2 separate regions of the Homo sapiens genome follow, and region 2 is linked to region 1. The links come from fine-mapping of genetic effects on gene expression. A gene starts in region 1. The other region holds a variant in brackets. All regions are shown on one strand. Distances are between the middles of the regions.

Evidence for each region. PIP is the estimated chance that this variant, and not a neighbour inherited with it, causes the effect.
Region 2: its variant is fine-mapped to the expression of CNTN5 in thyroid (GTEx, PIP above 0.99).

Annotation. Positions count from the first base shown.
Region 1 is chr11:99,018,375-99,023,764 of GRCh38, forward strand. CNTN5 (contactin 5) reads left to right here and starts at 2,575. Exons shown (of 25, transcript NM_014361.4): 1 at 2,575-2,896. RefSeq lists a silencer at 4,952-5,152.
Region 2 is chr11:98,733,759-98,739,148 of GRCh38, forward strand. No RefSeq gene overlaps it. Among named protein-coding and RNA genes, the nearest start is that of CNTN5, 280 kb to the right of the region's middle. RefSeq lists a silencer at 748-948. The variant G/A (reference allele first, on the strand shown) is at 2,419.

The DNA of each region.
Region 1 (5,390 bases):
CAGAAAATTGTAAAAATATACAGTACATAAGTTAACTCCATAACAGCAAAATTCTAAAGAAAGATGAGTCAGATAGACTAACAGTTTGTCTGTTACATATATAGATATTAATAGGGAATATATAATTGTATATTATTACAAATTAGAACATTAAAAGTCATAAAAGACATGAGAATAAATATAGTCACTCTTTCTGGGTCCTGAATGAAGTGTAGCCAGGTAACCTAGTCACCCCCAAATAATGATTGAAGTCAACATTTTAAATTTGAACTGACAGAAATAGACCTTACTATTTTTAATTAAACAGATTCAACGTTTCCTTTCTCTCCCTCTAAAGCATCAGATAACTTCGCAAGGAAAAGTGCTATTACATTATCTACTTGTTTCAAAAATATATTCACACCATAGTCTTGTGATAATATTGCTCTCTTTATAAAAAGTAGAAACATTAAAAGCTTTTATTTAGTTCTTGCTTAAGAAAGGAGAAATATTTAGTCCATTTACATCATGTAAAAGGTAAATTTTCTTGTTCATGTTAATGGTAGGAGGGCACCATGAATCATGTGACCGATAGCATTTCCTTCTTTACATTGGCTGCTAACAAAGTTAATGGCAGACCTAGCACCATTTGTAACAAAAACATCAATGCAGTTTTCTCTATAAACCTCATTTCTGGCTTCATCTTATCTCTCCTCCTATCACTTTACCGTTTGTCTTGATCTCACTGACCTACATTTTTTATTCATTTTTTTAAACTGAATAGATTTTTATAAGCCAACTTACATCCTTTCTAGGGCAAAGCTAGTTGAAAGAAATTATGTGACATAATGACTCAAAATGCCCAAATTATCGGATCATGGGTAATATAGAATGGTGTTCTAAGAAGGGAAGAGAACTTTCAGAAAGCTTTCTACACTCCCGATCCCTCTTTCAGGCTGCATGTGCTCAATTATACACTTTTAAAGGCAAAAACCTCATCGAACAATAAAAAGAATGCGTTAGAGCTCCTACACTTTGAATTTATTTTGTGATGTATTTAATGTGGTTATAAAAGTCCTGGTAGTTCTCTCTGTGAACCGACAGCCTGACAGAGGAGAAGAGCCAGTGGGGCAGAGAAAAAGCCACAGAAGGGGAATCTCCACAACGATCCCTCAGTTAACACATAAAGAAGATAACCTAGTTACTGGAAAGCAGGAACACGAATATAAAAAGTATGGAAGAGTGGAGAAGTATTAAATGCACACAAATTTGTCTTTGCTACAGAACAAGCAATCAGCCTAGATCCTGAGGATAGCGATTAAAAGCAGAGACTGGGTGTTTGTACATCATTGGATGAATGAGAAGCAGCCAAGAAACAGGAAAAGACTAATTTTAATTACCAGAAAAACTGCAAGAGAAAGAACACAGGGCTAGTGGTAGACGGCTTCCAGCTACAGGCTGCCTGGCACTGTACTCTCCTTGCCAATTAGAGCCAGTCAGACCCCATCGGGGGATTCAGTGAGCAGAAGAATCAGCGTCAGTCCAGGGTCAGGCTGCTCTCAAACACACATGAAAAACGGACACCAGCGGACACGGGGTGCGACCCTAGACTCCCATGCAGTTTCTTATACAGACACAGAGATAGAAAGCAGTACGTGGGATTTCCTTTCCATTAAATACAGGTGCAAACCACATTCTCTATGGAAATATATTGCAAAGGAAATGTTATATAATTTATTTAACAAATACCCAATTACCATCAGCCCAATCGTGGGAATTGGAAAACGACTCAAAGACTGAGAGGAAAAAAAAAAAAAAAGTAGAGAGGAGGACTGGCAGAACAATGGCACTAAAGCTGCCACACTGTGGATTTACTACCTGTGTTATTTTTCCAATTACAGCCATTGTAATATAAAAATTCCGAAAAAAAGGTTGCTGAGACCATTCCTTCGCTTTTTTTTAGAACTGAGTCAACACCCCAAATCAAAGAGAAATATAAACAGGCAGAGCCTGATAGTCCTTAGATGAAACGCGTAAGTGCAGAAACAAAAGAGAAGTGCTTCCCATTCAGGACTTAAGAAAATTCTGCAAAGTGAAAAAGTCCACTCTCAAACCGACCTAAGTGAACGCGTCAGTCTGTGCTGCTGCTGTCAGAGGTGTGAGCCGGGGACTACAGGAATCAGAGTGAAGACAGGAGCGGAGGAAGGGACTCTCGCCTGGATCTCCCGTGCCGACTCCAGCCAGCACGTTTGCTTTGTAATCTATGAATGTTAAATACGGAGGGGTTGCAGAGCAGAAACGCTCGGGGAAGGGGGGCAGGTCCTCTGTACTTAGCAGGGAAGGAAAATGCCGGTTGACTAGTGAGACGAGTGGAGAAACACAGAGCACCCTCCGGGAGGCGCACAGTTCGTTAAGCCCAGGGACATGCTCAATGAACCTTTGCAGCAAGAGGCAGTGAGGCGCTGGACGCGGGCGCCGGTGACAGCGCGGGCGGCCGGGGAGGGGCGAGGGGCCGCCCCGGGAGGACACAGCCAGTCAGAGGCGCGGGGCGCAGGGCGCGCGGACGCATTGGAGGAAAACACGCGAGCCCCAAACACACCAGCCGCAGGAGGCGCCGCACCTACTTCCCAATATAACCAACTACGGCGTGGGGGAGCGGAACTGCGAGAAGGCGGCAGCCAAAGTGCCATTAAAGCTCGGGGCGGAGAGGATGCGTTACCTGGGTCCCGTCTGCTGCGAGAGGCAGGGCAAGCTGGAGGATTCCCTCTGAATGATTAAGAACTCCGCAATTCGCCTCTGCCACAGGCTGCAAAGGACCCGAGGAACCGCTCTCTCTGAACTGTGCTGATGGGCAGGAGGATGGGAGACAGGAATTGAGAGTCACAGAGGAAGGACAGTGGAGTCTGGCATCTTATTGGTAAGTGGCTGACATTCCTTTGCCAGTGACTGCGTTCTGTGATTGTGCACTTCATCTCCCAGCCACTTAGGATTTTTGACACACTCTGTTCTGCAAAGCCATCCTTTCTTGCCATGTTGCCAGAATGTAAAAACTGTAAGATGAAGCTTTTTTAAATAAAGGAAACAAAACACGACTTTATTTCCTGCTGGGATTTTATGGCAAAAAGTTGAAACAAGAGTAAATATAACCTATTTGTATATCTCCTAATGCCACCCAAAATAAGAGTAAGCAATTCCTACACGCAAATTGCAAATTGTAAGGCAATAAATGCCAGGATAAAGTGAGGATGTTTCTACAAAAGAAACTAAATGTTTGGAAAATAGGATGCCGTTCTCAGGTACTGAATGTATGCCTTATGTTTGAGCAATGAGTTTCCGAGACTAAATAATTGGGCATCTGGCATTGCAATAACTTGTTAAAATTCAGTAGGGATGCTCTATAAGTGGAGTTCTACAAAGTTCGTGAGACTGAGAAAAACTGTATCTTGGATTATGCTGAGCTTTTTTCTAAAGGTTGTATAGGATTGTGATAGATTAAAAAATTATGTTCAGACATCCTTACCATGTTTTGTAGGGAGATATACGGAAGAGAATATCAATTTGCACATACACAAACCTGAGAATTACTCTGATGACCTGAACAATAAGTTGTTTCAACTATATTTATTTGCGAAAGAACCAGAATCCACTAAATATTTTAGAATTATATTACTTTTAAATCTTAGAACTGTTCTCCCAAGAAAAATACAATTTCATGTGGTAATTTAAATGCAGGTGAGAAGCAAAAAACTTTTAAACTGTTGTATGTTCAATGCCTTACCTACATTTCATTCATTTGTTTCTTAATTTAAAAGAGAAAATCATTTAGAGGGTCAATACTTCTACTTTGATTCTCAATTACGACTGTGGAAATAAGGATGAAAGAAGTAGATGTTCATTAGAATACTAGCATTTAAAATTATAGACAAATAGTCAAATTTAAAAATTAATGCAGATATCATCGATTACTGTTGAATTGCAACAGAATTACAGAAGTACTTATGACCATTACAGGGAGCTTAAAGGAGTTCATTATGATTAATATTGTGACTCTCAGTATTTTAAAAAATAATGATTAGGTCATTAACTGTTTTTGAAAATGCCTGTAGTCAATTTTGAGCAATTCTCATGGTTGCTTGCATATTCTCCTATTTCATGCTCAAATTATTCTAAGTTAAGTGGGGACTAGTATGCTGAGTCTTAAACTTAACAGGCATAAGTTTACTCTGACTCTAATCGAAAAGAGGTATGAGTAAGAATATGTCATATAAAACTAATGATAACAAATTAAAGATATTACATAAAAAGATCATCTAAGTCCATTAAAGGGAAAAAGGCAAAAAAAATCAGAGTTAAAGTTATAAAAAGGGAAATTCAATATAAAGAATAGAATTTGACAAATAGCTGGAGTGTGAGGGAATGATATTAAAGCCTATCTGAAAATAGAAAGTCAGTGAAATGATTATTACAAGTGCCAGTGTTTTTGCTTAGGAATTGGTGTATCCTTTAAATTATTTAAAACTTCTGAAAATTGAGAAAGGAGGAGAAAAACTGCTAATTTTAATTTCTTTCTGATTCCATAGACAACTGAACAGAAAGTTAGATTCTTAAAAGTTATATAAAAATATAATCCCATAGATTAACTAAATGCCGGACTTTGTCTATAAGTTGTGAGGCACATGCACACCAAGGTGCTTTTGGAAATACATCCAAAAAGCTACAGTTGTGGAATTTTTAAATGAATAGCTGAAATACCTGAATGTTTCTCAAGGTGAGCAGTTAGTACTTCAAGTATTAGGTGGTCTGAAACAATTCTTAGTCAGGGAGCCAACCTGAAATCAAATCATGAATCTATACATAGAATATGTTTATGTAAGATGAATCATTAAAATTAGTAGCATGTAAAAATTTACTTCAATCTTATGTGTCCAATTAAGTAGCGCTATCTGTTAGAAATGTACCAGGTTTGGCTGATATGTATTTCTTTAAATGTCTCTTTTACTTCACAGTTTAGAAAATCTTGACCACTTTCAGGGTAGAGGTAGGAGTGTGATTGTCTGTCACAGCTGACTTAGCAATATGGACCAGAGGGTGCCAGTAAAGGGCAAAGGGCCCGCATAGGCTGGCCAAAGCATTTTGGAGTTTGTCTTACTTCTAGACAAAATAAAGGCATAATTTGTGAAGATTAAAATAAAAATGATGAAAACTTCTCTAGATGGCTGTAATACTGTGAAGATGATTTGACTGTAGAGAGTTTGATTGGCTAAAACAAAGTTGTAGCAGAGTTTAGTGTCTCCTTCATCAGTCAAAAACTAATCCAGAATTTTATGAGGCTCAGATATTTACAATATTGTAATTTGCCGAATCCATTCTTTCTCATGTATCTTGATTACCTATTGTCTTTGAACTTTCTT
Region 2 (5,390 bases), 280 kb before region 1:
TTTGCAGCCTCCATACTTGCATTGGCCCCCTGGATCCACTTTCTCTCTCAAACTGTCTTTTCTCATTCCTTTGACTCCGCTGGACTTCATTGCCCCCATGACCTGGTGTTGAGTCTGATCACCCCAACAAGTGGTGTCTTTGCTTTAACTATTTTTTGCATACTCACAAACCAATCAGCATGCACTCCCCATTCTGAGTCCATAAAAGATCCTGCACTCAGGTGAGCTGGGTCACGCCAGTGTGGCCAAGTGGGACCCTGGTGGGGTGTCACTGGCTGGGGCTCCCCAGCCTGCAAAGTGACTGAGAAGAAAAATCCTACATCAATGTAGTTTCTGTGTGTGAATGACCACAGAATTTCATATGCAGAATTTTCTAGCAGATACAGAAGCATGAAGGGGTATTCACAAGCAGATTTGGATTTTTAAATGACAATCTTTTGATATTCTGTGTCTTGTGAGACATTGCTGGCATACTTTGTTTTTTAGTCTTTAGACTTGGTTTCCTTTGGTTTTTGTAAACATGTTTATAATAGCTGTTTTGTAGTCTTTTTTTCTGAGAAGTTCAACATCTGGCCCCCCAGGATGTTTGTTCTGGCTAAATTTTTTAGTATGTGACTTACTTTTTGGTTTCTTTGCAGGTTTTGTGATTTTTTATTAAAATGTGGCACTTTAATTGATATATTGTAACAATGCTGATATTAGGGATCCCCACCCTCCCACTGCCTGGCCAGAGATTGTTGTTTCTTGATACTATTGCTTTTTGTTAATTTTGCAACTTTGCTGGACAAATTTTGTAGGTTATACATTCCTTACAGTGTGAGGCCACTACATTGTCTACTAGCCTTTTGATTTTGTTTTGTTTCGTTTTGTTTTCAACTTCTTATTCTTTAAGCCTGACTTCCTCTGCATAAAGATCAGTATAATTTAGTGATCCTCTAGTGGCAGGTTAGATGATTTTCTTAGATCCCTCAACTGTGTAACTTGCACCCCTTACTTGGGGTATATGTGTGAAAAGGCATACCTTCAAGCTTCAGGTAAGCTATGATACAGTTTTAGCTTTCATTTCCTGCTTGCACAAGGCCTCTGTGTCAGTCAGAAGTGAGTGACTGATGACTTCACCATTTATGTCTTGGGCATGAAACTAGCCTTGAGCATGTACAGGCTTTTCTATCCCCAAGACTGTCAAAACTTTTCAAAGCTGCCTATGATTGCCTAGTTTACCAGGATGTCATTTTAAACTTTTGCCAGACTCTTCTTTGTCCCAAATTAAATTACAGCCTAAAGCAGCTGTGATATTGTCAACATATTACAATAGTTTATGGTAGTACCCTGAAGGTAGGTTTTTTGTTTGTTCATTTGTTGCTTATTGTTTTATGTTTGCCTGAACTGAGCGCTGAGTCAAAATAAATAACCACAAAATCTTGCATGTAGAAATTTTCCTGAGACCTGAAAATCTGGACTAAATATTGACTATTTCTGGCCATGGAGCTTTTAACAGAGCTCCGCAATAGGTTATTCTTCTCTGTTAGGTACGAGGCTGTCACTCGTTCATAGCTAGCTACCACACCACTGGCCTGGGCAAACATCATACACTCTGCTTTCTTATTGAGGTTCCATAGTTTCTCTTGGTAGAAGATTTTCAACTCTTTCTGTGGCATTAATTAATAGAGTCCTGAAGGAGTTTATTTTAATTGTTTTGCCAGTATTTTGTTGTTTTTGCATGAGAGAGTGAGTTCACTGAGATCTTTAACGTTTCTGAAGTTAATTTCATGTTTTTACATTGTGTTGTTATATATCAAGTTATTCCCTGCAGGCAGAACATACTTAGATCTCTCTTTCTCAATGTGAACTGACAATCTCAACCTTTTAATCAGGGTGTTTAGACCATTTGTACGTAATAAGAACACTGATGTGATTAGGATTAATTCTAGCTGCTTGCTATTTGTATTTCATTGATCTCATCTTTATTTCTTTTGTCAGACATTAGCATTAATGCATATTTTCTATAAGTCCAATTTTTAAAAATCTATTGGCTTGATATCTATATTGCATTATTATATAATTGTGACTGTAATAACATTCATTGTCACAATGTCAGGCTGGTCTCGAACTTCCGACCTCAGGTGATCCGCCCACCTCAGCCTCCCAAAGTACTGGGATTACAGGCCTGAGCCACTGCGCCTGGCCAGTTGTATTATAACATGTGGAAATACCGTAATAGAAATACATAAGAGAAGCTGTCATCAGAGGGTTTCTTAAATTGTACTACACAAAGATTTTTTTTTTTCATCAGAATCATCAGTGACTTTTTAAAGAATTGCAGGTCATGATCTCTACCAAGCCAGTAAAACAACCTCTCAAAGTAAGGAATTGGCATGTTTAGTAAAAACCACTGAACTATAAAAGAGAATAAAACAA[G/A]TATTATTTCTTGGAAATTGGGAAGTTGGAAAATGATGAGAATAAAGAGAAAATAATAAAAAAGAAGAGTTTACCTGGGCGATAAGCTAGAGTGGGTGGGTGCATTACTGGAAGGAAGAGATCTTTAATTGTAAAGCAGACTGTTATTAAAGTGCAAGGAAATCTTTGAAATCCCCGTTAAATCCGCGTGGCCGATGTTGGTAGCTCATTTTACAAATGAGAAAACTCAGAAACAAGTTTTTCTAAATTACTGTAGTAAGCTTACATGGCCACTTATAGGTGACCTAGAACTAAAACCACTTCTCACAAATCAACGAATGCTACGGTCTCTCCAACATTTTTATTGCTTGGTAGCATTTGAATAGCAGTGCCATTGTCAAAAACACATTCATTTCCCTAAAAGGTTGACATAAAATGGAATGTAATGATTCTTAAGGTACTGCGACTTCTGGCAGGTATCAAGGAGCTCCGCATTACTTGACACATATTTTACATCCTCAGTCCGACCTGATGTAAAATGGAAAGACACTAATGTAAGAGTTATTTTACACTGAAACAATTTTGGAAAACGTCTTTCTTGGTTCTACGTGCTTCTGTAAGCCTGAGATGCATGATAAAGTTGTGCTACTATCAAATGCACAAATAGTTTAAGGAGGAGGCCTTCTAGTAAAAAAAAAAAGAAAAAAAAAAAGATGGCATCTTGGCATTTCCTCAGATTTCTCCTCTCAAATGTATTATTTCCTAGTTTCTTTTTATGGTGCATCTGCCAAGGTGTTTTCATTAGGGTTCCTGCTTCTGACAAGCCTAAGGACGGCTGGGAGCCTGCTGGCTTCGGGTTGATGTGGAGACAGTTTCACAGCGTGTCATCGCTAGACCTCGGTGCTGGAAATCTCAGCATTTCATGATCCCTCCGCCCTGAATTGAAAACGAGCATGGAGAGCAGCAGAAAGCACTCCAGGTGGGGAGATACATTTGAAGTTCCTGGGAGGAGAAGCAGCTATAAGAAAGGAAAATGAGAGTTGCCAATGTGTAATTATAGCCTTTGAATAAAAACCTGTTCAAAATACAAGATTGTCACTCTTCCTTTTCAAAAAGGTTGCTGCTGTGATTGGGGGCCTTGGCACGGTACATTCCTGGCAGCAGATTACTCACTGGAGTAATCAGGGGAGAATCGACATTTTAAATGAGGCTCTACTTTCTGTAATATCTTACTTTTCACTTTCATTTATTTCCTGAGCTCTACCAGTTTACATCACATCTCCTTCTGTGTTATTATAATCTCTTTGAAATCTAGTCTTTCTTTTTTGTCTTGCAGTTTGGGATACCCCATTATTTTCTTTGATATAATAAAACTCATTTTTAAAGAAATATGTTCTGATCCTTTGTAGAATTTATAGTTAAGTATTGAGAGACGTTGGTTGTAAATAAGAAAATTCCCATGCTAGTTTCCTTATAATGTTACTTATTTTGAAATGGCAGCTTTCCTTTAATGTTGCCGTTTTCTAAAAAAGTACTTGAGGGGAGGACCTGCAGGAATGAAATAGGGTCATCATGACTGGCCTCCAGTGAGAGACATATTCGTGATCAAGGTAAATTTCTTCGGCTTTTGTTAATTTGCATTTTCACCTTTGTTAGTTACTCTTCTTTCTTTTTTTCTTTTTCTTTTCTTTTTTTATTATACTTTAAGTTTTAGGGTACATGTGCACAACTTGCAGGTTAGTTACATATGTATACATGTGCCATGTTTGTGTGCTGCACCCATTAACTTTTTTATGATGACTTAAGTATTACCAAGTAAGGGTAAACTTTACAAACCTAACTGGTTGAAAAGCTTACTGGTTTGCTGGCTTACAACGTAGTAATGCATGCAAGTTCATCTCTTTCACTGAAATGTTGACGATATTGAAAATGTAGAATCAAGTATAATTACTTGCAAATACTCTCATATAGATTAACTGTAAAATTCTGAACTGTTAATTATATCAATTGTGAATTTAATAAATACTTATTATAAATCATTCTTTACCAAATACAAGCAAGATATAGACTTTTTGTCTTAAAAATGCAGTAACCGTTTCATTGTATAAAAGAAGGATATCTCAGAGATGTGTATAAGTTACCTTAAAAGTAGAAATAAAATATATTTCAGCTTCTAATATTTTATTCAAGAAAAAATTAACTCACCTTGGATCCAGGCATGAATTGTTCTCAGTAGGGAGCAAATATTAATTAGGAAGTACATAGCAAATAATCTGTTTCATATTTCAAGTCATTTTAAAGAAGGAAATAATTACAATTTAAATGATTTATAAGAAATAAATTGATAAATGGGTAATATATTTAATAATAACAAGAAATTTATGTCTGGCCTAAGAATTCCGTAGCCTCACCTCACACAAATATGTGTTTCATTTCTGATTTTGGGATGTGGCCCATTTTTGGGTTCTGGGTCACTGTCTGATGCATGATTCTGATCCTGGGTTATGCACAACTCCAGAAACACTAATTTTTGTGCCATGGTAAAAGCATGACTTTGGCTCACATCCTCGTTTCTGTGGTCCAATTTGAGTTCTAAAAGCTTAGACAAGTCTGGACACCATGGCTCACACCAGTAATCCCACCACTTTGGGAGACTGAGGCAAGAGAATTGCTTGAGGCCAGGAGTTCAAGACCAGCCTGGGCAATGTAGTGAGACTCTCTCTACAAAAAATATATAAGGGTCAAAATAGCCAAGATGGTTCTGCCTGCGCCCAGCTACTCAGGAGACAGAGGTGAACTCAGTCGGGGAAGTAGAGGCTACAGTAGCTATGATCACGCCATGGTGTTCCAGTGTGGGAGACAAAGTGAGACCCTATCTCAAAACAAAACAAAACAAAACAAGATGAAACAGCACAAAACCATAGACAATGGGGTTAGGCCTTATCTATAACTGTAGATTGCCAATTGTTTCCTTCCTTCAGCATTTCATCACT